Regions from separate parts of the Homo sapiens genome. Here all the other regions are linked to region 1. Evidence: fine-mapped expression QTL. A gene starts in region 1. Each other region holds a variant in brackets. All regions are shown on one strand. Distances are between the middles of the regions.

Region 1 (4,066 bases):
TACTTGGGAGGCTGAGGCAGGAGAATCGCTTGAACCCGGGAAGTGGAGGCTGCAGTGGGCCGAGATCACGCCACTGCACTCCAGCCTGGGTGACAGAGCAAGACTGTCGGAAAAAAAAGAAAAAAATGCTGAAGATTGGAAATCCATTCACCTCTTGGTCTCTATCGTCCACACCTTACACTGCGGCCCCAGCACTCACAGACAAAAATGTCAGCACGAACCCTGACAGTCCCAAACTCAACTCACCCGGAGGTGTATCGACAGAGAATGGATAAAGTGCGGACTAATCGTTCAATTAAAAAAAAAAAAAAAAAAAAAAAAAAAAAAAAAAAAACCTTACCAATATAAGGGCCTACAGTGGCATGTAACAAAGATATGGGTCACATAACGTGAAACAAAAGATACACATGATACAGTATTATCCTAAACAGGTATTATTCAAATAGGTAACAAGACATTGTCAGAACGCATAAAAATGGTAAAATATTAAAAAAAAAAAAAGCAAGGACATTTCTGTATGTTATGACCGTGATAATCTAAGAGGGAGGGAGAGAGTTACGAGCAGTTAGGGGAATCTTCAACTTGGTCACAGGGACACTAATTTTCTTTTTTGAGACAGATCTCACTCTGTTGCCCAGGCTGGAGTGCAGCGGTGCAATCTCGACTCACTGCAACCTCCACCTCCCGGGTTCAAGCAATTCTGTCTCAGCCTCCTGAGTGGCTGGGACTACAAGTGCTCACTACTACGCCCAGCTAATTTTTGTATTTTTAGTAGAGACAGTTTCACCATGTCGGCCAGGCTGGTCTTGAACTCCTGACCTCAAGTGGTCTGCCCGCCTTGGCCTCCCAACATGCTGGGATTACAGGTGTGAGCCACCGCGCCCAACCTATTTCTAATAATTATTCTCACCTGAATGAGATGGCTCACACCTGTAACCCCGCAATGCGAGAGGCTGAGGAGGGGGATCAAACCAGCCTGGGAAACAGAGCAAGATCCCTGCTCTTAAAAAACACGTAATTATTATTCTCTCCAATTGTATTATATGTCGTATGGGATTTTCTACATTAATGTATCCCACCGAAATATTTATTTTAAAGATAATATGTACAGGAAGAAAAAACCTATTCAGTCACTGGCAATATTATGAAGATATGCTATAACCAACATTTGCTTACTGATTTAGCAAATTTCAGAATTATGGGACAGAAGCGTTTTAAGAAGTTACTTATCAAGGACATGATAGGAAACTCCTGAGCGGTAAGGCCAGGCCGAACTCATGCCACGGACGCCCCGTGCCTCCCGGCCTGGGCCGGCAGCGCTGAACTATTACCTTATATTAAACACGGGCTCGTGGATTACCATGAACACTAAACTGCTTCGTCATTTTTTTCCCCATAAATTGAGTCATTAAAAAAACAAAACAGTTCAATTCCGGGAGGCGTCAGTTCTCTGAACACAGCGAGACTTTAAGTATGGGCTGTGGGCGCCTCGGGTCTCTTAAGGACTCGGCCTCCCAACAAAAATGAACTAGGAGCAAAGCTGTCAGCGAGAACCGCAAATGCCGACCCCATTTACTACCCCCGTTAAAGCCCACGCTAATGGAGGGCCCCGCCGGGAGCGCCGCGGGCAGGCCCGGCCCCCAGCCCGGGGCATCGCCCCTGGGAGTAGGAAGGAGCTCCGAGGTCCTCCGGCCTCGGAGCCTCGGATGCGGGAGCTCCAGGAAGGGCTCGGGGTGCGGGACGCCCACAGCTTGGGGAGCTGCCAGCCCCGGGCGCAGGGACGAGGACCCCTACGCCTCCGGCCTGCCCTGGACCCTCCCCTCCCGGGTACCAGCGCGCCGAGCGCCTCCCGTCGCAGCGTCTCACCCGCCGCTCAGCCGCCTCAGCACACACAGGCCCTGCCGCCCGCCGCAGCGCCACATTGCGCATGACGAGCACCTGGCTGGCGAGGAACCCCCTCTTAACCCGACGCAGGGCGCGGGGCGGGGCTTGCCGTGACAGCTACCACTCCTATTGGTCAACGCGAACAGCGACGTCCTCTGCGATAGGCTGTAGGTGAAAAGGGTAGGCCTCCACTGCTCTGGGACGGGCGGGAGGGCGGTGCGGACGGAGATGGGCGGGAGGGGCGGGGCCGACGTGCCGAAGGAGGCGGGCAAGGCGAGGGGCGTGGTACGGGTAGAAAGGGGCGGGGCCGTCTTGCCGAAAGGGGCGGGGTTCGGCCAGCAGCAGGATGTGGACAGATGATAGGAGGGGGAAGTGGGCAGGCGAGAAGTGGGGCGTGGCGAGAGGCGTGTGTATGCAGATGAAGTGGGGCCTGGTGAAGGGCGGGGCTGCGCTGGTGAAAAGAGGGGCTCCTGGAATGGCGTGCTGTGTTGGGTGGGGCTGTGCAAGTGATGGGAGGGGCTTAGCGAGGGGTGGCTCTTTGCAGGTGAGGAGTGGAGACCAGTGGGAGAGGGGATTGCAAGTGAGCTGAGCCTTGGGGGCGGGGCTTGCAGGTGACAGGGTGGAGCCTAGTGGGCGGGGATGCAAGTGAGCTGGGCCTTGGGGATGGGGCTTGCAGGCGATGGGGTGGAGCCTGGTGGGGCGGGGCTGCAGGTGAGCTGGGCCTTGGGGGCGGGGCTTGCATGCGAGAGGTGGGTCCTTGTGGGGGCAGGGCTGGCAGAAGTGGGTGGGGCTTGGTGATGGACCGCGGTGTTCAGGTGAGGGTAGTGGCCTGGTTGGGGGCTGCCGGAAGCTGGGCCAGGTGAAACTTGGTAGCCCTCTCTGGCCTTGGTGTGGGCGTTGGTCCTGTTTGTAGGGCTGAGCTGAGCTCCAAAGGCGTTCTGCTGCCCCGCCAGGCCTGAACCTTGGGGTCTGGGGGCTTCTTGGATGAGATCTCAAGGCTGCATGGCAGGTCCCAGGGCCAGGGCCCCACGGTGTCACACGTATCACGGATGGCCGCCAGCGAAGCACAGCACAGCTCCGAGCTGCTGCATGGGAGCCTGTGGCCCCCGCTGCTGCCTCCGCTTTCCTCTTCGTTTCGTGTCTAGGAAGATGCACCTGAGCCCCCTGACATTGCCCAAGTGCCCAAGGGCCCTTCTGGGAACCCCCAGAGAGGCTGAAGGAGGCCCCCGTAGGAGTGGGTGGTTCTGCACTGTGGGCCAGAAGGGGCCCTGGGATTAGCCACGCTTGGAGAGGGTGGGGTAGCCCTTGGAGGAAGTCCGCACCAAGTCTGACCTTCCGGGTTTCTCAGAGCCTCTCTTCCTTCCTCCCTTCACCTTCTCCCTCTTTTTTTCCCCTTGTATCACGAATACAAACAGGCTCAAATCTCCCTCTGTCTCCTAATGGGCTCTGAAAAAAAAAATTAAAAATTAAATGGTAAGTAGATGGCTGCAGTCGGCTTGAACAAGCTAAAACTTTGGAAGCAATGTGGAAGGTAATACTGTGGGAAAAAGTCCCAACGTGTCTACCCTAAACTCTCCATAGGGCAGCCAGTTCTGGGCTGCAGGTAAACACGTACCTCCTTATTGAAGAGCCCAAAGGAACCAGAACACAGGCAATAATAGGAGCGACAGACACAAACACGCTCTGCGCATCACCCGTCTTCTAGGGAGAATTTGGGTGTGTGCACACAAAATATCCGATCTAGGTCTCAATCAATTTAGAAAGTTAATTTTGCCAAGGTTAAGGGCATGCCCATGACACAGCCCCAGGAGGTCCAGATGACATGTGGCCAACATGGTCGTGGCACAACTTTTTTTTTTTTTTTTTTTTAATACCGTGTCTCACTCTGTCGCCCTGGCTGGATTGCAGTGGCGCAATCTTGGCTCAGTGCAACCTCAGCCTCCCGGGCTCAAGCGAGTCTCCTGCTTCAGCTTCCCGAGTAGCTGGGATTACAGGCACCCACCACTATGCCCAGCTAATTTTTTTTTTTTTTGTATTTTTAGTAGAGACGGGGTTTCACCATATTGGTCAGGCTGGTCTCGAACTCCTGACCTCGTGATTTGCCCGCCTCCGCCTCCCAAAGTATTGGGATTACAGGCGTGAGCCACCGCGCCTGGCCACAACTTGCTTTTATACATTTTAG
Region 2 (4,066 bases), 83 kb after region 1:
CCAACCATCCACCTATTCCCCCATCCACCCCTCCACTCATCCACCCACTTATCCACACACCTACCCTCCCATCCACCTATCCATCTATCAATCCATCCCCCCATCTACCCACCTATCCAACCATCCACCTATTCCCCCATCCGCCCCTCCACTCACCCACCCACCCACTCATCCATCTGTTGGTCCATCATCTTCCTATCTATTAATCTACCCATGGACCAAGCTCTTCAACTTTTTTTCAACACTGCAGAGGATTTTGCTTATTTTTTCATTTAAAAATATAACCTAAAAGAGAAATAGCAGAGAAGTGCTGAAGGTTAGAGAGCTAGAATCAGAATCAAAGTCTCTGAGCACAACCAGCCCATTTTTCATCAAGTCTAATAAAATAATTTGAGTACTTCTGCTTTCCTGAAATAAACAAAAATTTGATTTTCAACAAGCTACATGTTGATAATAAAGTTCATAAATCCTCTTCCACATTAAAAGGACACAATTTGAAATGGAGACACAATGGTCAGCTCTTAGCTATCTACATACCGAAGATTTATTTCCAAGACCCGTAAAAGAGCGGCACCCTTTGGCTCTTGCAAACACAGATGTCGATCATCACTACAGCCTGCCTGCTCATTGCTGGTTACACAGAACAATCTCCTCTGCTGTTTTTAGAATCTTGAGCTACTTCTGTTATTTTTTAAAAGAGTCAACAGCTATTTTACAGTTTTGTTTTTTAGGAACAATTTTCATTATATTTTACTCTCACGAACTTTTAAAAAATGATTTTGAAATGTTCCAGTCTGCCTATGGGCTGGCATCAAGAGTCAGCAAAGTCACAGACCTCCCACACTGTGAGATCAGACTAATGCTTTGTGTAATTAGCCAAGGGATACAAAATATTTACAAAAGAGACCTGACTTTGCAGACAGGCCCAGGTGCAGTCTACTTCCATCCAGCTTCTGGTGGTCACGAAATTTAGAGCAGAGACATGCAAAATTGCTGTTTCCCTCATCTGTGAGAGGCGGGGCCCAGCCAAATCTGAGCTCAATGTTTGTGGCAAAAATGACCGGGGGCCAGGAGCAGTGGCTCTAGCCTGTAATCCCAGCACTTTGGGAGGCCAAGGCGGGTGGATCACCTGAGGTCAGGAGTTCACGACCAGCCTGACCAACACAGTAAAACCCCATCTCTACTAAAAATACTAAAATTAGCTGGGCATGATGATGGGCACCTGTAGTCCCAGCTACTCAGGAGGCTGAGGCAGGAGAATCACTTGAACCAGGGAGGCAGAGGTTGCAGTGAGTTGAGATAGCGCCACTGCACTCCAGCCCGGGTGACAGAGTAAGACCCTGTCTCAAAAAAAAAAAAAAATCTCTAGATGTGCAGACCTTACTGAACCATTCAGGAAACAAATACACAATGCATTTGCTTGTATTTAGAGGAAAGCTTATAAACATAATGTTTTCTGTTTTCTTAAGCTGAGACTTGGGTAGGAACACAGTGGGAGGGAGCTGAGTCCACAGCCAGGAGAGCCTGAATCTACTGCTTGCGGCTTTCCAGAGTCCCAGGGAACTGTTTCCTCCAACTTAGCCTCTGGCTTCGAGTTGATGCCCTTTTCAATGAGGTATCCTGAGGAGCAAACCCATTCCTTCAACCTGAAGTGCCTCTCCTTGCTACTAAAATAGACTCAAGTAGATTGCAGTTTATAGCATTTTGTAGGTCTTATTTTAAAGCCCAGTTGACAATGGTTTTAGGAATTAAAACAGATGTGACTGTAGAATTTTGATCCTAAGCATCTACTGTTGGTCCTCCCAGTCTGATACAGCTCTGTCTGTAGACAGTCATCCCGGGTCTAGCCCTCACTTTGAATGACTTGGTTTTATAGATTAGTCCACAGTCTCAGATTTAATTAAGCATACATTTCAAATGAATAGACATACATTTAATGTACACACATACATGCCTTTAATGTTCAGATTTGGACCGGGTGTGGTGGCTCACACCTGTAATCTCAGCACTTTGGGAGGCCAAGGTGGGCAGATTGCTTGAGTCCAGGAGTTTGAGACCAACCAAGGCAATGTAGCAAAAACCCTGTCTCTACTAAAACTACAAAAAAGTAGCTGGGCATTGTGGCACATACCTGTAATCCCAGTTAATCAGGAAGCTGAGGTGGGAGAATCACCTGAGCCAGGGAGGTTGAGGC[T/G]GCAGTGAGCTGAGATCACACCATTGCACTCCAGCCTGGGTGAACAGAGCACAACCCCATCTCAAAAAAGGCAAAACAAAACAGAAAACACACAACCCCCCCCAAACACACAATGTTCAGATTTGGTGGAACATACATACATACAGGACATATGAGAAACCTCCAAGCTATGTGGAAATCCACACGTATACTGAGAAACTTTCAAACCAAAGAGGGCAAAGCAAGGGAGGCTGCGGCCTGTGGAGAGACCAGGCCAGGACTGCCAGGCTCCTGGGGCCTTGGAGGCACTCGGGAAGGGTGGGTTTCCTGAGCTTGCTCTCCAGAAAAGCTTTCCTCTTCCTCCCAGCCCAGGTGAAGCAAATCTCTCAAACAGGATGGCCTCAGGGTGAGCAGAGCCACTGGGCCGCAGGGGATCTTTCCTGGACTGTTGGGGGAACTGACAACCTCCTCACGGGCACGATGGGAGTCCCTTCTTTGAAAAGATCCCAGTGATTTGGTTTTTATATCTGATCTCTTTAGAAGCTCTTGCAGCAAAGACTATTTTATTAAACAAACTTTTAATGCTCTTTTCAAAGCCCAGGTTATTCCTTTAGTCTTGTGTGTGTGTAAGGAGTATCTTACCTTTCTCCTCTTCTTCATTTTCTCTTTTATTCCATACACTCTCTTTTTGCAAAGCGGTTTATATATGTCCTTATGCTTTCTGATGATTTTGGGAGGAAGATGAAAATATCCTCCATCAGAATCCAGAAGAGAAAAGGGAAGCAGAGAAGGCTCAGCTGTGGACACTCAGGTCCCCCCAGGGCTGAGGGGAGCTCTCATTCCTGGTCTTCCTCATTCCCCAATTTTTCTAGGCTTCTTGTTACCATGGTTACTCCTTGTCTGGTGGCATGAGGAGATGTCAGAGACCATTTTAGTGTCTATTTTGCCTCATTTTTTATCTTCATGAAGGATGGGTAAAGAAATACTGTCCCGAACTCAACAAAACCTTCTCAGGATCAGGGCTCCACCCTCAGACTTGGAATTCTGTGATGTTAACCCCTTCTGAGAGGTGATGAAATGTGTCCTTTTAAACTGTCTTCTGGAAAGAGATGTAGGAGGGACCGGAGAGACTATCTGCAGCAAGGCTTTTGCCAGAATAATGTTAACATTGAATGTGCACAGGAAGAGACCGGCATGAGTGAAACTGTGACGCAGCTGTCTACTTCCCGGCTGTAAGGTGAAAATGCACCTTCCCACAGGAGGCCCTCCCTGGCCCGGCCTGGACTCACCTCCCAGGCGGCGTCCTTCATGGAGGAGGAGCTGAAGTCTGCGGGGCGGGGGCTTTCATCCTTGTTTACGGGTCTTAATTCGTTCCTCAAGTGCACACTGTTCAAGGAAAGGATGTGTTGCCTCTGCAACCATGGTTTTCTCATTCAACGCCTACCCCAGGACACACCAAGGGAAGGACAGAGCCGAGACCCAGACAGGCTGGTGACAGCAGTGCAGACACATTTCCAGGTGGAGGGTTTGCAGCCTGCTCTAACTTAATGTTCCCGCTCCCACACTCCACTCCCAGTCTGAAATGCATTTCGAGGAGAACAAGTAAAACCTGCCCTCTTAGAGTTCAAAGTTTCCCGGAGACAGCTGAGGCCGATAGCTTATTGTTTAGGTAAGAACAACAGAACAGAGAGGCAGAGGGATTCCCGAGGTTTGCGGAGCGGATCGGTAAGGGTGAGCCCCGAACCTGTCTTCGCTCAGTTCCATAGTCGACAGCCTCCTTACCTACTGCAAGTGTCCAGAAAAACCCGTTTAGAGGACAAGAGGCTCCGGAAAGAAGCCTGCTCAGCTGCGGTTACTAGTCCTGTCATAAGTTATGTGTCTTGAGTGGACCAT
Region 3 (4,066 bases), 560 kb after region 1:
TTAAAAAGACATTCGAAAAAATGATAATAAAAAAACTTCCTAAATCCCATAGTCATATTGATTTTTGTTTTGTATATTGTCTTAAAATTTTTAATTTTGCTTTTTACACTTAAGACTTTAATCAGTCTAGAATTGATTTTTACACACGATATGAAGTGGAGATCTAATTTCTTCATTTTCATTTTGGTTTTCTGGATGAATGAATAAGGGTTAAAAGTTATCATTTACTAAATAGTCCATTTTTCTCCTACAAAAGGAATAAATCAATTTCCAATCATCTATTTCTCTATCCCTTGTCAATACCACATTTACAACTGGGCCCAACCCTAAGTGGTACAGAGGCCCACAGATAAGTAAATGATTGCAGAATAAACTTTGCCAGCTTTAGGACTTTGGCTAGACGTAGCTGGTTCTGCGTGGCATTTTTTAGCCTAGAAACTCAAAGTGCCCCATAGCCTGATTAGGATACACGTGTCATCTTTTCTTCTCCTATTACAAATAAACTAAAGCAGGGACCTGGGTAGCTTGCATATGCATGGGTAGCCTGCAGGGGCTTTGAAATGAAACTGCCTGAGTTCAAAGCCTGATTTCACCACTTACTAACTTAGATCACTTGTCCTTGAGAAATTACCGGATGTCTTTCAGCTTCAATTTCTTATTTATCAAATGCTAATAATAATGTATTCATACCTTAAAATGCTATAAGAATGGACTGAGAAGCCCAAGTGCGGTGGCTCACGCCTGTAATCCCAGCACTTTGGGAGGCCGAGGCGGGCAGATTGCCTGAGCTCAGTAGCTGGAGACCAGCCTGGGCAACATGGTGAAACCCCATCTCTACTAAAATACAAAAAATTAGCTGAGTTTGGTGGCACACACCTGCAATCCCAGCTACTAGGGAGGTTGAGGCAGGAGAATTGCTAGAACCCAGGAGGCAGAGGTTGCAGTGAGCCAAGATCACGCCACTGCACTCCAGCCTGGGCAACAGAGTGAGACTCTGTCTCTCAAAAAAAAAAAAAAAAAAAAAAAAAGAATGGACTGAGAAAATAGGGATAACCTGGCAGTATAATCAAAAGCATGCCGTAGAAAGAAAAGGTTTGTCTCACTGGATACGTGGAGTTATGCGGCCGCAAGACCAGGCACTGGTTCACTGGCTTCCCATTCTGAGCCCTTTTCTCCTTGACTTTTGGTCTTATAGAGTCTGGAAATTTCAAAACCACATTTCACAGGTTTTCTTGCCACTAAGATGACTCAGACCACTGAGCTTCTGTCAAACAGGCAGATCCACCAACAAGCTGGTAAATAGCAGGAGATGGACGCCGCACACGGCTGCCTCTCCTTGCAGGCATGAGGGTGAAGGGGCCTTCAGTGGAGCCCGTGGGGATGGGGGTCCTAGTCCCAGCCAGGCAGTGGCCACCGCAGCATGTGTTTCCATGACAACACTGGACACCGGCATTTCTCTCGTCTCTTTTGGTTCTAGCTGAGTAGTATTCAAGCCATGTTTTCTAGCTGTTTAGATTTCCTGACCTATCTAATATTTGTATTCATTCATTCCACAAATATCTGCAATGTACCTACTATGTTCTCGGCAGGTTTGAGGAGCTTGAAATACATCAGTGGATACAATAGATGAAGATCCTTTGCCTTCAGGGGCTTGTATTACAGCCAGTGAAGACAAATGTAAATATGCAATGTAATGAATGCGTGCAATGGTATGGGAGAAGGTGGTAAGCACTCTGGAAAAACAAAAAGTAGAGCCGGACAGGAGGGGTCAAGTGTGGCAGAGGAGGTGGCAGGGCTGCGATTTTAAGTAGGGTCCTTGGGTTGTCTTCACAGCACCATGAAATTAAAAGATTTCCTGGAGCGAGAGTTCCCACA[T/A]TGATGTCCCAGGGGTGGGTGAGAGGAGAGCCATGGGTGCAGCCCCGCAGGCCAGGTGCCCTGGGTCTGACCAGGAGAAAAACCAGGGTGAACCTCGCCGTGAGGCCGCCGCCCTCTTTACGCAGACAACACGGTTTTCCTGACTCTGTCCTGACATTGGCCCAGCCTTCATCGTGTCCCCTTTGGAAGTCTCCCCTCCACAGCTAACCTCCCACACTTAGCCATCCTCATCAGGCTGTGCTGGACCCTTGAAATACTCCACAGTGGACTGCTTTGTTCAGCGCAAGGCAGTGGGTGTCGTTGGGCAGTGGACAGTCTTATTCACCTTTTCGCCTTCAGCTTCTAGCGGGAATATATTCGGCTTTCAGAAATGATTGTGAAGAAACAAATGAGCAGATCTGTGAATACATTATCACCTCTATTTTCCTCCTCTAGGTCAATTAGGAGTTATGGCCTATGGTGTGTATATGGCAGGTAAACTCGTTCTTCTACTTAGATGTCCCATCTATGTTGCTCTTTGTTTAGTATTGCAAAAGCATAAGTTCCCTTAAATAATAAAATAAACATGACTTAAATGGTTTGAGCTAGTGGCCACACGTAATGAGCTGGACCTTTCTTGGGCTTCAGCCGCTCCCTGAGATCCCATTAAGTACTTTGGGTTGACTTGCACACTGCCAGGGTGGCTCATTAGTGAGTTACTGCCTCAGTACCTATGCCCTTTTAATGTCTCCTTGGGCCCAGAAGAGCCTCATGTAATATTAAAATATAGTTCAATACATACTCACCTTCTTCTGGGTTTTCACTTCAGAGATTTGGGTCAAGATAGCAAACACCTTCATATATCAAAATAAAGAAATACATGTACGTAAGTAATTTTGTAGCACTTACATATTAAGGTTGCTATGTGTGTGGACACAGGAACAATTCTGAAGAAGCCAGGAGAACGCCACAGTGATGACGAGGACTCCTCTCGAACACAGAGCACTCCCACTCCATAGGACTCGCTGGGCTTTCCAAACTTAGCAACCCAGTTTACCAGGCTCAGTAGGACAGGACAGTTCACTACCCACTGATGCATGTTATTTGGGGGAAGATTTAGTGAAAATTTGAAGAATTCAAGCTCAGAGTCTCAAATGTATATGTACACAATGCTCATCACTCACACAACTGAAAACTGTCTCCACTTTTACACCAAATACCCTCATGATGGGATTTGCACACATCAGCATCGACATAGATTTAATCAGTGATTAGGCCTATTCATAGGAAATAGAGACTTGGACTTGTTATTTTAAAAACCTTTAAAAGGAAGAAGAGCCGGGTGTGGTGGCTCACGCCTGTAATCCTATCACCTTGGGAGGCAGAGGTGGGCAAATCACCTGAGACCAGCCTGGCCAACATGGTGAAACCCTGGCTCTACTAAAAATACAAAAATTAACCAGGTATGGTGGCAGGCACTTGTAATTCCAGCTACTCAGGAGTCTGAGGCAAGAGAATTGCTTGAACCCAGAAGGCGGAGGTTGCAGCGACCCAAGAGTGCACCACTGCACTCCAGCCTGGGTGACAGAGCAAGACTCAGTCTCAAATAAATAAATCAACAAAAAGAGAAAGATACTAGATTTTTCCATGTACTAGGGTTAATTTGGCGGCTATGTGTTACATTAACATACCTTACAATAATTACATGCATTACATTACATTTTTGTCCAAACAGTATTATGAGAATATGTTTTACATGTCTATGTGTCCTGGTAGGTTAAATTCCCCTTTCTTGCTCTTCTTTTTTAAAATTCACAGTTGCACTTGGCTATTCTCACTCACTTATTTTCAAGGTATATTTGTAAGTGAATTTATAAAGATTCCAGAGGAAATTCATTTAGATCTTGTTTAAAATTACATATGACATAATATAGACAAAAATTATACCTTTATTGATATGGTTTGGCTGTGTCCCCACCTAAATCTCATCTTGAATTCCCACGTTTTGTGGGAGGGACCTGCTGGGAGGTAACTGAATCATGGGGACAAGTCTTTCCCATGCTGTTCTCATGATACTGATTAAGTCTCATGAGATCTGACAGTTTTATAAAGAGGAGTTTCCCTGTACAATCTCTCTCTCTCTTTGCCTGCTGCCATCCATGTAAGACATGACTTGCTCCTCCTTGCCTCCCTCCATGATTGTGAGGCTTTC
Region 4 (4,066 bases), 31 kb before region 1:
TCAGAGTGGCAATGGCTACCTACGTATCTACCTACATGCCTGCCTACCTACCTAATCTAGCTATGCATCCACGGGACAGGGTCTCACTGTCGCCCAGGCTGGTGTGCAGTGGCGCAATCTGCTCACTGCAGTTTCAACCTCCCCAGGCTCAAGGGATCCTCCCGCCTTAGCCTCCTGTAGCTAGGACCACAGGCACTTGCCACTGCGGCCGGCTGGCTCCTTCTTAAAAACTGTTGGAATACATGTTCTCTTAGGCAGCAAAGCCATAGAAAATCAAGAATATTGCTTTACAGTAACGGTGTTATGTTTATGAAAGCTAACAGAACTGCATCCACATCAGGCACCTCCAACTGAAATGAGCTAAGAACGCTCTCAGGCTGTATCAGCCCCCTCACCTGGGGCCTGTGTTTCAGGACCCCCACGGCAGGGCTGCAACCTCAGACAGCCACTATGGATACTATGTTTTTTTCCTATACCTATGATAAAGTTTATAGATTAGGTGCAGCAAGATATTAACAAAATACAACAATTATACTGTAATAAAAGTTACGCTGATGGGCTACTATTAAGTAAAACAAGGGTTCTGTGAACAGAAGCTCTTGGATACCCACAGCGTATCTGATACCTAGACGGCTACTGGGTGACCAACAGGCAGGTACCGTAGACAGCGTCAGCTTTCATCCCACTGCTTAGAAGAATGGTGTACAATTTAAAACTTAGGAAGTGTTTATGTCTGGAATTTTCCATTTAATATTTTCAGACCGAGGGGGACTGTGGGTAATAAACCATGGAAGGCAAACCCACGGATGGAGGCACTACCGTGTTCTGCCAAAATATGCTGGCTGAAGCCAGGGTTTACTGAAGGCAGAATGCTTCCTGTTTCGGCTGCTGGCCCTAATCCTCGCGCCAGAAAGGACATTGCTGGGTGTGGCTAAGTGCCCAAGGAGTGAAAAGAAGCACACAGAACAACTTTTGTCTAAAATTCACTGCAGTAGAAGAAAATGACACTGATAATCATGAGTAGAAGACTAAAACGACGTGTGCATCCCAATGTGTGAACTAGAGCAAAACTCACCTGTAAGAGTAAAGGGTGAAAATCCCATTGTGGCTGAGTTTTGCGCCTCCACCATAAGCACCGCCTTTTTCTCGAATTTCTGTATGCAAGAATTTGGCAGTCATCAAACGTGCAAGGATTTTAAGACTGAAATGATTAAAAAATGCAAGTTAATACCGTGGCTGATAAAAAAGCATAGACAATGAAGTAATTGTTGGATTAAGTGAAAATGAAAATCGAGTTGTAAAATAATGCTGCATAAATTATGGTCCCATATTTTGGTCTTGTTTTTTAAGAGATGGGGTCTCGCTCTGTCGCCAGGCTGGAGTGCATTAGTGCAATCACAGCTCACTGCAGCTTTGAACTCCTGGGCTCAAGGGATCCTCCCACAACAGCCTCCTGAGTAGCTGGGCCTACAGGTGTGTGCCACCACGCCTGACTATTTTTACAGTTTTTGTAGAGGCAGGGTCTAGCTTTGTTGCCCAGGCTGGTCTCAAACACCTGGCTTCAAGTGATCCTCCTGCCTTCAAAGTGCTGAGCTTACAGGCATGAGATTTTCTTTTCAATTAACCAAAACTAAAAAGCACAAGGAAGCACAATTTTCAAACAGTTGGCTTAGATTACAGGGTTGAAGGGAGAGGTGGTGGGGAGGGAATCTTAACACTTCCAGCACCACACTGCTTAACTTGTTCCAATGCACATGTGGCATTTTTAAAATCTCGTGAAGTAGAAAGAGGTTATTTCTATTATAAAGGCAAATGAGCAAATGAACATTTATTTAAATGTCTCACATCAGAATATGGAAAGAAAGGAAACTGAAGTGAGTTTTATAAGAATCCCTTAAGAAAACACACACTCTCTGATAAAGCACATTTCTAGGAACAGGGCCAATTTCCTCTGCCTTCCACTGTGAACGGTAACATCACATTCAAGCTGATTCTAGAACACATCCACCTCCGACAGAAGGCGGGGCAGACAATGATGGGAGGGTCTGCAGCACAGACACAGGCTCCTTGAAGACGCCC[G/A]TGGTGAGATCAGCCCCAGGTCGCCGCTTCCACAGACAGGCCTTTTCCTAAAGTGGATGAAGGGAGTCAAATAGGCCAGGTGGGAAATCAAGGAAGGAGTGGGCGTGTTCCCAGGGGCTGTGGTGGGAGAAGTCACGACCATCTCGTGTGGGTCCTCCAGGAGAAACCCAGCGCCACTCGGGTGGCTGGGGCGCCGTCAGCCGGGACTAGCGAGGCTGGAGTCAGACCCTGGGGGACGGAGTCTCCACCAGCACCGGCAGGGATGGCGTTCCATCCGTCCACACATTATCCTTCCTGAGAAATTTCTATTACTTGTATATTAAAAACATGCTCACTTTTGAAAGATTATAAAATACAAAACACAAGGAAAAAAAGATCTGGAATCCCACTGCCCAGGGGGAACCTCCACATTTTTAGTGTTTTCTGTCTACATTTTCCTGTTGGATAGTGGAAACAGACACCACTCTTCTGCCGGCATAGCAGACAGATCTGTTCATCTTCTACAAATATGGAAATAAATGAACAAAACAGCTGACCACATACTTCTACAGCCAGCTCTTTCTGGGCCCCCACTGCAGCCCCACGTTTCTTCCCGCCTGCCTCCTACACACCTCCCCATCTGTGACCCTCTGTGACACACGTGCACCTCGGAGGCCCGGCTCCTTCTCCAATCAGGACAGGCTGCCCAGGCCTAAGCCTGCCTTCCCCCTCTCTACCAGGCTCACTCCTTGGTTTAGTCCCTCATGGGGGTAGCTGCCTGGGACAAGGACACAGGAAGTGAATTTCCGGGATATAACATGTTTGCACATATCTGTGTCATACACACCCAACTGACGGGTCCCCAAAGGTGCACGTCTGTGAGTCTGTCCTGGTCTGGCCAGTTTCCCCAGATGGGATGAACACAGCCAAGGGGCAGCCAGAGTTCGGAAGAAGGGGCTGGAGGGCCAGTCTGTAGGCTGCAAACTCCCTCGCCCCACGCCACTTTGGGAACAGGCCTGACCCTGACTCTTGGCTGTGGCTTCGGCTGCTCAACCCAGGGCCTCCTTCCCTGAGCTTCTGACTTGGTGGGGAGACAGGGGAGACAAACTCCTTAGAGGGACTGTGAGGCGGCCTCCAGCCCTGCCATCTGCAGGGCTCTGCAGGACCACCTGGTTTCTCCCCACTGCCCTGTCCCTCTGTGGCCCCAGGTCAGGCACCCCCCACCCACCCAGAGTCTGGCTCACGAGGTTCTCCTGCAGCCCCCATGGCTCTCCGGGTCACCTCCCACTCTTTCCCTTGTAGCTTCGTGTCTTGATCTGCCTTTGCTGTCATTCACGCATCTGTCCTCATGAAGGCTTAACCTACCATGTTTATCAGAAATCTCAGCCTAAATTCATTCGATTTTTACCTAGAGATGAGGTGAGTACATGGGGCATGTTGAAAGCAGTCTGTGTTTAAGGTCATAGGTATCTGTATTGTTCATAGGACTCCTCAATAATAGAAATTGTTTACAAAAATGACTGGCTCTAAAACTGGGTCTCTGTTCACAAAGACTGCTGGTTAAAGAGGAGCACTCGTAGACTCACACAGCCCCAGGTCCAACACTCAGAGTCAGCACAGACTTTTCCTGTGCTAAAACACGCCCTGTGAACTCGAACAGCCTTGACAAGCTCTTCCGTAAGGCTCAGGCCTGAGAGGTCCCGACCTACACCCTCCTACCTGGCATGATCTGGGTCCGTGTAGGGGACAGTTCGGATGCATTCACCCACGTAATTCACCGGGAAGGGCATCAGGAAGTGAGTCTTCATCTGCCAGGGCTTGAAGGTGGGTTCCTGAGGGACACGGTATGGTCAGAGGCGGCTGTGCTGCCATGCACCGCCCACGGCACTGGGACTGGACCCACTCAGGGGTCAGAGGCGGCTGTGCTCCCACGCACTGCCCACGGCACTGGGACTGGAGCCATCTCAGGGGTCCCATCTCCGTGACACTCTGCAGCCAGGTGCTGGGG
Region 5 (4,066 bases), 25 kb before region 1:
TTCAATGTGGCAGCTAATGAAGCCGTCCATACGCGGAGCCTGTGACTCTAAACTCTAGTTCTTCTGAAGAGCAAAGAAAATACAGAGACTATTAAGATCTGCTAACCGTGCCTTCGGAATTACACTATCAAAACACTGACAACTTTTAAAATTACTGTCCAGAAGTCATCAATTTGAAAATGTGAACTGGTTGTTAAAGCAGAACATTATAAACTGCAAAAAAATACCATGCTCTCAAAGTTACATGAAAATAGAACTCTTCCAAATTCCACAGAATTGCAAATACTACTATCATATAAAAGCTACTTGAACTCTACAGTATATTGACAGAGTGTATATTTTTTCCTTTCAGCTGTAAATCCTGAACTTATTCTAGTTAAAGTAACAGCAGGTACCATTATATTAATACTAACTATATCCCAGGCATGTATGCTGCCTTGCAGATATTCTTTCTTTTATTCCTTACGATAAACCTGCAAAGGAAGGTTTTATGGAGGAGGAAGCAGAAGACGCAAGTGGGTCAGCTGCCCAGGACCGCCTGGGAGCGAGTGTGAGTGCTGACCCGGCGGCACCAGAAGCCAGGCCTGCCTGAGCCCAATGCCAAGAGACCCTGATCGCCAGGCTTCACCTCTGGCCACCCACAGACCGCCCTGTAGAATCTGCCAGGGATTCTCAGGACATGACTGGGGAAAGGCATCAGGACTCTGTGTGAAGAAGGACAAGTGACTTCAGCAAACATTTTCTTGTTAAGTACTGATGAATACATCAATGTCACTGACAATAAGATGCTGAAAATAAACAATCATTTTTAAACTTTATTCATGCTCACACATCTGAGGGCATAAGGCCAACTGAAGGTATAGGACTGAGCTGCCAGATGTTTCCTCAAAGCATCACATAATTTTATAAGAAACTGCACTTTTACTCTGGTCTTCAGCAAGCTCACCTTTACAGATACCTCAGTTACGGACCATGTGCTTTTGGAAGCAATATAACTACTTGCCCTCAATCTATTTGCACTTCTAGCACAAAATTAGCCTGCTTTCTTCCCCATCTCCTACAACTTTTAATAGGCTTAAAATATTTTCTTAGTTTGTTAGAACACTTGACATTTACAATAAATTCTATAACCTTTACCAAGCACTCTATCTTGAAGTTTCTACAAGTAAGAAATACCTAAAAACTATACTTAATAGAATGAATCATAAAATATTTAGAAACAAATCACACATGCACCTCATATTATCACCATTTAACAAGTGTTTCTTGATACGCGGGAGCTTCCTCAGGATGGGTTTGATATCTGTCATTTCTGCAATCCTCTTCATCAGCCGCACCTAAGCCAGAGGAAACTCGCTCAGAGAGAGGCAGAGGCTACAACAGACCCGCTGAGTCTGAACCAAGCACCTGTGACATCAGAACCCTGCTTGGGCAGGGGTTATGTGTGCGAGTGCACGGCTTGGGCAGGGCTGGAACTGGGATGCAGGGTGGTACAAAGAGGAAGATGAGTCAAAACCAACCAACCAATTCTTCCCCATATTTAGTCAGTTAGAAAGTTAGCATTTCTGGGACATAAATTAATGTATTCCCAAAGAAATTAGTAACTCTGGAATATGTGGCTAAACCGGAGTAATAGAGGTTCCTTCCAAGCTTCCCACCTGATCCATCCCGCTGAAGGTCTCCTGCAGGTCCCCTGCGGGCGTGAGGGTCCGGCCTGCCCTGATGGATGCGTACAGGTGCCCAGAGTCAGGAATTCCATTGGCGAGCTCCTGGGCGGTCATCTTCACCAGCACCTTGAAGTGCTCCTCTTCTTCAAAGCACGGGCTATGGAAAAAGGAGAAGAAAAAATTCCTGGAGACCCATTCCTCACGTCCCTTCAGTATCATGGAAAGTTGATTAAGTTTTCAGAGTACTTTAACAACCAAAGAAATTTTATAAGTCCATATGAACTACAAGTAAAAGTCAGACTTGGAAAACAACAACACACACGAGTAAAACTGTCTCCTTTAAAGTACTTCAAACAAAGATCTCTAGTACACCCCAAGAATGGACAACTCTTGCAAATAAAGTTACTTGTTAAATATTTCACTCCATAGCTGCATCATGTCTGGCAGGTTTCGATCCAGGCAGAGAGAGGAGAAAAGCACACCCTGAACCAAAGAAAACACAGAAGAAAGGAATTAGGGCCGAATCGAACAGTGACAGACACTGGAGAAAAGCTTCCCACCGCAGCAGTCGTCTGACGGTACCAGGCTACCTGCTCGTAGGTGTCCATGTGTGAGTCGTCGGGGAGCACGTGGGGAGAAGCACTCATCCCTCCGGTCTTCAATTCTATCTGCTGAGCCTGCTCCCGGTAGTCAAGAAGGCCGCAGCCCAGCCTGACACAGCAGAGA[A/T]GCATCGCCCCGATTACAAGTCAGTCTTTACTGAATCATTTTTAAAATCGTGCATCTTGAGTTACAAGTTGCTTCCATTAATTCAATAACTGCGGCTTTGCCAACCTCTCTACACTTCGAAGGTCATAAGCAGGTGCACTCTGGCCTTCGCCCTCGAGAGTTCATGTGCCCCCTTCCCCAGGGAGACCCCAGTTTCTCCCGCCTAGGAAGTTAGCGTCCAGAGGCACAAGACACTTGGGCAGCCAGTGTCTGCACTTAAAACACCATTCTAAAATAGGCATTTCCAGTTGTAAGCTCTTCAATAAATGTTTTATGACTACTCCCTACTCTCTTCACCCAGATCACCGTGATACATACTTCCTTTGTTTTGCTCGAATGTCTGGTAGCCTGGGCGGGGGAGTCCGAAGACTAAAGGTTTTTTAAGTTTTTAAGAAAAGCAGTTTCCTCTCAGCACTCATGCTTTTGAAAGAAACATTCACAGTGACACTGCTAATGCCAGCAATAATTGAGTCAAGGGAATGACCATGAGGTGTTTTCTAAACCGCTACAAAAGGATGAACAGTGGCAGCTATATTTAAAAAGAAAGGCAGGGAACCTTCAAAACCCTGAAGACATTTTTCCATCTGAGCGGACCCTCAGCCAGGGTGCAGAAGGTGTCACAGCCACATAGCTTTCTGCAGCATGCAGACAACTTCATCTCCACAAAGGGAAGACCCCAGCTGCATGTCAGGTTGGGCAGTGGTCCCTGAAGCTGGCTGCAGGGTTCCCTGTCGCCCTATTATTCTGGATGGGAACAGGAGCCCACAGCCCTGTCTACTGCTTGTCCTGCAACCTCGGCCACGGCAGAGCTGGGCAAAAAGTCAAGTGTTGATGTGTGCACTCGTGTGTGTGTTTCCAGATCTGTGCACACCCCACCTAGGGAGGACGACAGCAACTGCAGGGTCGGCTTGGAGGAGGAGCCACGCACGCAGCAGGCACACCTGTTCCTAAGGCAGCCCCAGGCCACACTGCACATCCAATTACTTACATTTTCGGATTAAACCATCAATCCTTTCCAAAGCTTCATAGGCTGAGATGGAGATCTATAAGTATCTCCTTATATTATACCGTAGATTCATAACTATTTCAATGTAATATAGTAAGAAAATGTTACTTTCATAAAAAATTCTAAACCAATATATTGTACACCATACTTACACACTAACATTGTAAGTTGTGATTCACTGAAGGTAATTCCTACTGATGCATTAGAATACAGATATGCACACAAAGCAGACATTAATAAGACACACAAGGGTATGTTGCGACTCGTACTTGGTGAGGACGCTGCAGAAGAGGGGCACATAGGGCCTCAGCTCCTCGGGGAGTGTGTTCAGGCTGGAGAAGGCCCGGAAATACACCATGCCATTGGTGGGCTGGGCGCAGTACTGAACAGGGATATCTCCAGCTAGAAAAACAAAAGGGATTTAATTTTTATTGCTGCCAGTAAAATTCTAACCACTTGTAATATTTAAAAACAATGCTATTTATTGTTTTTTCAAGAATGGAGGTTTAAGACTTATACTAGAGTTTATATAAATTTCCCAATCATATTTTCATGACTAAAAACTGGAACTGTCTTCAATAGTAAAGCAACCCGTGCTCTCCAAGGAATGGGAACGGAAGGATGGAAC
Region 6 (4,066 bases), 43 kb before region 1:
GCTCAAGTGAACATTTCCCAATGGGTGTTAAACTTGGGTGCACAGACTCTCACGTGGCTCCTAGTCTCAAGTCCACACCCCCACTTCATGCTCTTACTCTTGGCTGAGTCCCATGGAGGCCCATTAGGGAATCCTGCAGGATCAGCCGTTGACCAGGACGGACGGACGGCTGGCTGGGGAATACCATGCTTATGTCATTCAGAGACAAGCATTTCTTGAGCGCCTGCTGTGGGGGCTCGGCCGGGTGCTGCTGATGGTGCACTGGTGTAAGCCCAGCCCACAGTTCCTGTCCTCATGGAATTTGCAGCCTAGTGAGGAAGATCCTCCCAAGTCAAATAACCACAAGGTAACTGCAGGGAGAGACACCGGGATAATTTCTGTGAAGAGAGGACATGGGGTGGCTCCGAGAGCCCCTGACAGAGGGAACTTTGTGGTCCTAGAAACCAGGTGGTGTTTTCCTGAGGAAATGACATTTTCCTCTGGATCAGAGCTGAGGAAGGTGCCTCTGTGTGTCCCGTGGCCGCTGTGACACTGACCACACACCTGGGGCTGGAAAATAATACTCTCTCCCACAGCTCTGGAGCGCAGGAGCCATGGGCTGAGGCCAGAATGTTTGCTCCAGGAGCGTCCCTCGTGGCCCGTTCAGGTGCCCAGAGTTGCGGGCCTTGCACGCCTTGTACGCCTTGTTCCCTGGCGCCTCCTCCTTCCATGTGGGTGTGCAGCATCCCGCTCCAGGGCCTTCAGCCTCTGCGCCCCTCATCTGCTGATGCAGGTGATGGCATTTAAGGCCCACCTGGGTACTCCTAGGATTCACCTTTATCACCGCATGAGGGAGCATTCCCAGGTTCCAGGGATTAGGGATAGGACTGGGATTCCTTTGGGGGCTGCTCTCCCGCCCACCACTGTGCCGGAATGTGATGCACACAGCGGCCAGCATATCCAAAGGCCCCAGGAGGACCTGGGGTGGCTGGAACAGGACCTGGTGCCGGGAGCAGGCGGGGCCGGGGATTCCCGACAAAGGCTTGATGTGTACTTGAAGTGAGCAAAGGGTTTTGAATAAACCAAGAACTGGATCAGATTTATGTTTTTTATAGATGGGGTCCTTTCTGTGTGAACGGATTGGAGGGTCCCGGGGTGGGAGCTGAGGCCCAGGAAGAGGGCGTTGCAGCCGGACTGATGTATGGGTGGGAAGGCGGCCGATGCATTTCTTTGCCATTTTTCTCCCCGCCGAGCTTGGGTCCTCATGGAGGGCGGATGGCAGACATTTCACTCTGGGATCCGATGCCTGTGCATCTGGAAGACTTCCCCAGGTGCCTGGGTCTAAGAACCACCATCTGCCTTTGAGTAGAGTTTCCATAAATGTAACATTCGCCAATGGATGGAAGATGGCCGCACCTCTAAAATCACAGGGAGCTTTTCAGAAGAAAATAGAATAGCACAGCGGTTCTCACGGACTAAGCTGGCAGGGGACAGTCCCCTAACATCTCAGCTAACACCTAACGGTGTCTGTGTCCGGTGAAAGCGGCTTCAGCAGGGACAGTCACAGAGCAGCGTGGAGTGAGCTGGCTTGTGG[GGTC/G]GTCTTTTCCGTCCCCTTCTATGGGGCCTGGGAGAAGGGAGCGGCAGATGGCCAGGCCCCCAAAACGGGACATCGAGGTCACCTCCAGGTGGCTGCCATGGTGGGGTTGCGGGGGACCACGTTCACACCCACTCCGAGGGCACATCCTGGCTGCTGCACACCCTTCACCTCTGCGGGATGCTGGGACCGCATGTTTGGGCGCGGTGGGGGGGCCTTGCTGCACTCACTCTTGGGGGAGCTCTGGGATGGTGGGCGCGCCCCGGGCCTGGGCTGGAGTGACTGATCGCTTCTCTGTGACCAGACCTGCGACCGCATCAAGCAGTCCGCCAGCGGAACCAAGCGGCGCGTGTTCATCATCGAGACCATGGGCGGCTACTGTGGCTACCTGGCCAACATGGGGGGGCTCGCGGCCGGAGCTGATGCCGCATACATTTTCGAAGAGCCCTTCGACATCAGGGATCTGCAGGTATGTGACGGGGCTGGCCTCAGGGCCCGTCCCCTTGGGATCCACTGGGTGCTGCGGAGTGAATCATCGTGTCTAGGGTGGTTTGCTTTCCAAGGGGCATGGAGATGGAGATGCTACAGAACATGCCACGCTTGATACACTTCGCATCGCCCAGGTGCCCCTACTGCGTGTCAGGTGACGGTGGGTGTGCCTGGTTGAGGACACCTTCTAGTCTCATGTGTGAAACACAAGCTTGTTTGTTTGACATAGTCTGTTGTGTAGTTAATGTTGTCTCACTTATGTCACCAATGATTTGAGAACCTCCGCTGACAGTCACCACCCACGTCTGCGACAGGCTCTGAAGGTTGCTGCAGCTTCTTTTAAATCCTGAGGCCCCTGATGCTGCGTCTGCCTCTAAACGGACACAGACATGACCGTGGTTTCTCGGCATCTGTGGCTCTTTTAGGGAAGGGTGTCGCTGACCCCGCGGTCTGCCCCTGCTTGGACGACACAGCAGAATCCAGGCCTGGACCCTGCAACATTCAAAGTTGCTAAACTTCATGCAAGATGACAGGCCTTGGCAGATAAAATGCAACTTGAACAATTGTCTTTATTTAGAGAGGGAGTCTTGCTGTCACCCAGGCTGGAGTGCAGTGGCGTGGTCTCGGCTTACTGCAACCTCCAACTCCCAGGTTCAAGCGATTCACCTGCCTTAGCCTCCCAAGTAGCTGGGATTACAGGCACGTGCCACCACGCCCAGCTAATTTTGTATTTTTAGTAGAGATGAGGTTTCACCATGTTGGTCAGGCTGGTCTCAAACTTCTGACCTCGTGATCTGCCCACCTCGGCCTCCCAAAGTGCTGGGATTACAGGCATGAGCCACCGCGCCCAGCACCATTGTCTTTTAAAAAGTTAGGATGTTACTTGTTTCTGAGCCAAATAGATCAAGTAAAAAGGGCCTTGGCACTAATTATGTGACATGTGAATCACGAATTTCTTTACCATGTCAAATATTTGTGGAGTCATTCACTGCATCATGATGTTTCTGTCAACAGTGGGTCCCATAAGATTATAATGGAGCTGCCCCAAACAGGTGCAGTTTTTTATCTTTTATAAAAACATATCTTTTTACATATATTTTTATAATATATATTTTATAAAAAGATGTTTTTTATCAAAAAATATGTATCTCTTACTGTGCTTTTCTACATCTAGACATGTTTAGATACACAATTGCCTGCAGTATTCAACAGTCCCAGACATTCAGGTTTGTAGCCAGGAACAACAGGTGTGCAGCAGGCTCTGCCTCCTGGGTTTGTGTGAGTTCACTGTAGGATGTTTGCGCAAGGCTTAAGTCACCTAGCAATGCATTTCTCAAGGAACATATCCCCCTGTTACATGACTCATGACCGTATTTCAGAAATCTATCCAAAGATCCTGCCTCACCAGCGCTCAGCATGGCAAGGGCTTAAGAGAAATTATGACAGATTTTTATTTTTTGCTTTAATTTTTGAGATGGAGTCTCGCTCTGTCACCCAGGCTGGAGTGTAGTGGCACAATCTCGGCTCACTGCAACTTCCGCCTCCTGGGTTTAAGCAATTCTCCTGCCTCAGCCTCCCAAGTAGGTGGGACTACAGGCACCTGCCACCACGCCTGGCTAATTTTTTGTATTTTTAGTAGAGACGGGGGTTTCACCATGTTGGCCAGGCTGCTCTCAAACTCCTGACCTCAGGCAATCTATCCGCCTTGGCCTCCCAAAGTGCTGGGACTACAGGCATGAGCCACCATGCCTGGCCTCCTACTTTGTGAAATTCTGCCATTGCGCCCAGTGACAGATTTGATTAGATGTAAAAACCTCCATTTTCTTAGGATGAATCATTAGAGAATTACCTCCCTCTTGTAATCCTCCTAACATGATCTGAAATGGGGATGTTCTTACTCTAAGACCATCTTTTCCTTAAGAAATCTGTGTATGAATGTGAGTCTACAAAATTCTTTGGTCAGACACTGCTCATCAGGCCGTCACATGAGATTCCATAGAAAGG
Region 7 (4,066 bases), 37 kb before region 1:
ACTCCTGACCTCAGATGATTCACCCACCTCAGCCTCCCAAAGTGGTGGGAATACAGGCCTGAGCCACTGTGCCCAGCCAAAACATCTGAACTTTTAAGTGATGCCAAACATCACCAGCTTTAGGATTCTTTTGTTGGTGAGGTTTGAGTAATGGGGATTTTAAGGGAACTGTCAGCTTTCATGAAAACAGTGATACCCCCATTACTTGGAAATGCTTATTCAAATTAAACACTTCATCAAGTTAAAAACTGGAGCTTCCCTAAGATTTAAAATGGATTATCAGACATGTAGTATACTTGACACCCCAAGTCAGAATGACCTGGAATGAGCTGCACACAGGCACACACGTGTTATGAGCTGAGCCTGGGACACAGGGTCCAGGCCTCCTAACTTGCACACACTCCTTCCTCACCACCTCCTATTCTTATACTTTTAAGCCAGAGCCCATGAATCCCCTGCAATGATGATGAAATAGTAGGCATATGTGTGATCTTCTTAAAGAATCCACAACGGTTATCAGATTAAAGCTGTGACCCATCCCCAGCTCAGATGAGTTCATGAAATCCTGATTTAAGATTTTAAAATAATGAAGATTGTTAGTTGACTTGTTCGGTTTATTAAAATCCTCATCTTACTGAGCGGGGGGAACACTTGATACTTTTTCTTAACAGGCCAAGTTCAGGCTACGGGAATCACAGGTTTTGTTCTGTTCCAACTATAAGGACCTAGAAATAAAAACATGAATTCTGCAAAATAGAAATTGTCATTTCTATTTAACAGCAAAGTGTTACTGTATAACTGGTATTTCATATAACTCTAACCACCAACAGGGTGGGGCACCCTCTCCATTTGATAGAAACTTTGGAACCAAAATCTCTGCCAGAGCTATGGAGTGGATCACTGCAAAACTCAAGGAGGCCCGGGGCAGAGGTAAGGGGTCTGGGGAGGGAGGCCACAGCCTCGTGATGCAGGCCGTCCTGCCTTGGTGAAAATGCTGTCCTATCGGGGAGAAGTAGGGTGCTGGTTCCTTCTTCAGTTCAGTACTGAGCTGCACGTGATGTTTTACTCCTGATCTCTGAGTGTTGCTATTTAACCAACCTTGGATTCCTGGGATAAGATCAGCTTGGGTATGACATGTTCTCTTTTATCACTGCTAGATGCAGTCTGCAGTTCTTTTGTGCAGGCTTTTTGCTCTAGAGATCCTGAACGTTGGCCAGCAATTTCCCCTCACAGTTTAAGTGGGGCCTTCTATTTTTTGAATGTTTGCTAGGACAACCTCCTTGTGACTATCCATCAAAACTTCCAGTTTTGAGGAAGATCTGACTGCTGAATGAATTGTTCATGTTTGTAGAACTGCATGTTCGTAGAACTGTGCATGTTCTTCCTTAAATCAGTTCTGTAAGTTACATATTCTAAGAAATCTTTAAACTGAAGTTTCAAGAAACATGACTTTTTTATAATACTCTTGTTAATGGCTCCAACATGGCTGTTCCCCACTCATTCCTGAGTGGCTCTTTGTGCCAGCATCTTTCTCACCCCCACCCCCCTCAGCTTTCTTAATCAGTCATAGCAGATGTGTGCTTTTATTCCGGCAAACCACTATCACTGCCAGTGTCCAACTTAGAAAAATGACAGTCTATAAAAACCAGTGATGTGAATAGTTTCAATGGGTTTGTCTTTTTGAAGAACTGACTTTGGCTTTGATTCTTTCTACAGCGATTTTCTTTTGCTAATTTAGCTATGGATGCTTTTTGCCTCTCAGTGTGTGTATGTGTGAGCATAAATTAGTGTCCTGTAATTTAAGCTAATTTCCCTATT[C/A]CACTATTTAGTGAAAAATTCTCTCCACTGGGAGGAAAAAACAAAAGCTGCTTTCCAGGAAGCCCTCGGGGCAGTCCCACAGGAGCAGAGCTGCACGAGGCCAGGTGCTGGCCCCACTGCGCGGCTGTTCTCAGTCTCACTGGGCTTCCAGGCCGGGTTCAGCATGGTTCTGAGGAATCTCAGTTCTCATCTCGCCCCGTGATTCTGCTCCCCCACCTGCCCATGTTGACAGGGTGTTATTAATCTTTTTTAAAATCTTTTATAGGAAAAAAATTTACCACCGATGATTCCATTTGTGTGCTGGGAATAAGCAAAAGAAACGTTATTTTTCAACCTGTGGCAGAGCTGAAGAAGCAAACGGATTTTGAGTAAGTTGGCTGGGTTCCCTGAGGCAATAAGACCCCAATGTGAGTACGGGACAGGGGAATGGCCATTGCTGTTGCTGTCGGCAACTCATTCAGGGGTTTGAGGAACTGGCTTTTCTGAAGCTCAGTTAAAAAAATACTAGGTCTTGGCTGGGCGCGGTGGCTCATGCCTATAATCCCAGCACTGTGGGAGGCCGAGACAGGTGGATCACAAGGTCAAGAGATCGAGACCAACCTGGCTCATATGGTGAAACCCCATCTCTACTAAAAATACAAAAATGAGCCAGGCATGGTGATGCACACCTGTAGTCCCAGCTACTCAGGAGGCTGAGGCAGGAGAAATCGCTTGAACCCGGGAGGCAGAGGTTGCAGTGAGCTGAGATTGCACCACTGTACTCAAGCCTGGCGACAGAGCGAGACTCCACCACTGGGTCTTCGGGAATAATTTTAAACAATGGTTTCATTTGATCCTGAAATTGGCTTTATCATCTAGTTGATTCAGCCGACCCTACAAACCCTGTGTTTCTGGCAAGACCGCTCGCTGTGCTGGCCAGGCGGAGGCATCTCCCGCCAGTGACTGCAGGCCTCACTGCTGTCTCCTCTTACCTCCACAGGCACAGGATTCCCAAAGAACAGTGGTGGCTCAAGCTACGGCCCCTCATGAAAATCCTGGCCAAGTACAAGGCCAGCTATGACGTGTCGGACTCAGGCCAGCTGGAACATGTGCAGCCCTGGAGTGTCTGACCCAGTCCCGCCTGCATGTGCCTGCAGCCACCGTGGACTGTCTGTTTTTGTAACACTTAAGTTATTTTATCAGCACTTTATGCACGTATTATTGACATTAATACCTAATCGGCGAGTGCCCATCTGCCCCACCTGCTCCAGTGCGTGCTGTCTGTGGAGTGTGTCTCATGCTTTCAGATGTGCATATGAGCAGAATTAATTAAACATTTGCCTATGACTCCAACAGTCCTCTGTTTTAGTTTTTTAAGTAGGAGATTAGTACCTCAATCTATGGGTGGCTACTAAAGGTTTTCTCAGTTTTGTGGGCAAAGATTAGCAAAATATTTTTATAGGGATCACTGAACTATGCACACGTCATACAAGGAGAACAAAGCCAGGAGTTCACACAGGCCAAGGGGAAGGCCACGTTTACTCACCATTCCATATCTGCCATGTGTCAGTTTCCATCCACAGCAGCAGGCCGGGACCCTGGGCCTCGACCCCAGGCTCCTGCTCTCCTTTGAAAGTAAAACATGAATCTTAGTTACTTGTCCTCTTGATTGCAATCCTAGCTGCATGTTAAAACCACCAAGGGGTGGGTGGGGCGGAGGTGGGTTCAAAAATCTGATAGCCAGCTTCTCCTCCAGGCCAAGCCACAGTCCTCGCTGGGACCTAGGTTGGAACTCTCCGGAAGACTCCTGCCAGAGTAGACACGGCTGCTGGGATGACAGCCCTGCTGCCCTGGTGGGCCCCCCTCCTGTAGGGACAGCGTTTCTGCCTCTTAGCTCTAGTCTGCAAGAGAGAACAGCTGCGCCTCAGAAATGGGGGCAGAGAGCTGGGTGGAGGGAGAGGAGAGGCCAAAAACAAACTCTGTTTGGGAAATCAGAGTCCGACAGCCAAGAAAGAGCTAGCGCGGAGGCTTTCCTTTCTGGCTCTGTAACGATGAAGCAAGCGCTTACTCACCCCAACCCACTTGCTTCTCAGGACGGTTTCCATGCAGCCGCCGCGGTGAACTCCCGTCTGGTGGACACTCCCCCAGGGCCTCGGTGTGATGGAGTTTCCTGAATCAGCGCAGGCAGACGTGGGACACCCTTGTGCACCTTTTCATTTTACTTCTGTTTTTAAATAAAGGCCCTAAATGCTGCTTAAAATAATGACTC

What was found.
Region 2: its variant is fine-mapped to the expression of PITRM1 in pancreas (GTEx, PIP 0.97).
Region 3: its variant is fine-mapped to the expression of PITRM1 in vagina (GTEx, PIP 0.98).
Region 4: its variant is fine-mapped to the expression of PITRM1 in tibial artery (GTEx, PIP above 0.99). The same link has a PIP of 0.9 or more in thyroid.
Region 5: its variant is fine-mapped to the expression of PITRM1 in T cells (TOPMed, PIP above 0.99). The same link has a PIP of 0.9 or more in CD4 T cells, aorta, atrial appendage, blood mononuclear cells, breast and caudate.
Region 6: its variant is fine-mapped to the expression of PITRM1 in whole blood (TOPMed, PIP above 0.99).
Region 7: its variant is fine-mapped to the expression of PITRM1 in blood mononuclear cells (TOPMed, PIP above 0.99).

Annotation. Positions count from the first base shown.
Region 1 is chr10:3,170,851-3,174,916 of GRCh38, forward strand. PITRM1 (pitrilysin metallopeptidase 1) reads right to left here and starts at 1,932. Exons shown (of 27, transcript NM_014889.4): 1 at 1,867-1,932. The coding sequence starts at 1,922. RefSeq lists silencers at 1,457-2,296, 2,587-2,746 and an enhancer at 2,945-3,482.
Region 2 is chr10:3,254,329-3,258,394 of GRCh38, forward strand. LINC02668 (long intergenic non-protein coding RNA 2668) reads right to left here and starts at 3,191. Exons shown (of 3, transcript NR_187504.1): 1 at 2,816-3,191; 2 at 2,132-2,229. The variant T/G (reference allele first, on the strand shown) is at 2,195.
Region 3 is chr10:3,728,357-3,732,422 of GRCh38, forward strand. The region is part of intron 1 of LOC105376360 (a long non-coding RNA gene); the gene reads left to right. Among named protein-coding and RNA genes, the nearest start is that of KLF6, 55 kb to the right of the region's middle. The variant T/A (reference allele first, on the strand shown) is at 1,876.
Region 4 is chr10:3,139,612-3,143,677 of GRCh38, forward strand. PITRM1 (pitrilysin metallopeptidase 1) reads right to left here. Exons shown (of 27, transcript NM_014889.4): 23 at 3,778-3,890; 24 at 1,076-1,201. It overlaps PITRM1-AS1 (PITRM1 antisense RNA 1), which reads left to right and starts at 1,990. Exons shown (of 4, transcript NR_038284.1): 1 at 1,990-2,158; 2 at 3,361-3,477. RefSeq lists enhancers at 1,730-2,231, 2,232-2,731. The variant G/A (reference allele first, on the strand shown) is at 2,080.
Region 5 is chr10:3,145,914-3,149,979 of GRCh38, forward strand. PITRM1 (pitrilysin metallopeptidase 1) reads right to left here. Exons shown (of 27, transcript NM_014889.4): 16 at 3,708-3,840; 17 at 2,258-2,378; 18 at 2,074-2,150; 19 at 1,659-1,824; 20 at 1,237-1,337. It overlaps PITRM1-AS1 (PITRM1 antisense RNA 1), which reads left to right. Exons shown (of 4, transcript NR_038284.1): 4 at 1-2,716. Among named protein-coding and RNA genes, the nearest start is that of PITRM1-AS1, 6.3 kb to the left of the region's middle. The variant A/T (reference allele first, on the strand shown) is at 2,394.
Region 6 is chr10:3,127,942-3,132,007 of GRCh38, forward strand. PFKP (phosphofructokinase, platelet) reads left to right here. Exons shown (of 22, transcript NM_002627.5): 17 at 1,878-2,042. Among named protein-coding and RNA genes, the nearest start is that of SNORD142, 4.1 kb to the right of the region's middle. RefSeq lists an enhancer at 1,274-1,787. The variant GGTC/G (reference allele first, on the strand shown) is at 1,574.
Region 7 is chr10:3,133,653-3,137,718 of GRCh38, forward strand. PFKP (phosphofructokinase, platelet) reads left to right here. Exons shown (of 22, transcript NM_002627.5): 20 at 831-930; 21 at 2,084-2,186; 22 at 2,798-3,150. The coding sequence ends at 2,927. It overlaps SNORD142 (small nucleolar RNA, C/D box 142), which reads left to right and starts at 452; the gene lies at 452-646. RefSeq lists enhancers at 2,331-2,832, 2,833-3,332. The variant C/A (reference allele first, on the strand shown) is at 1,819.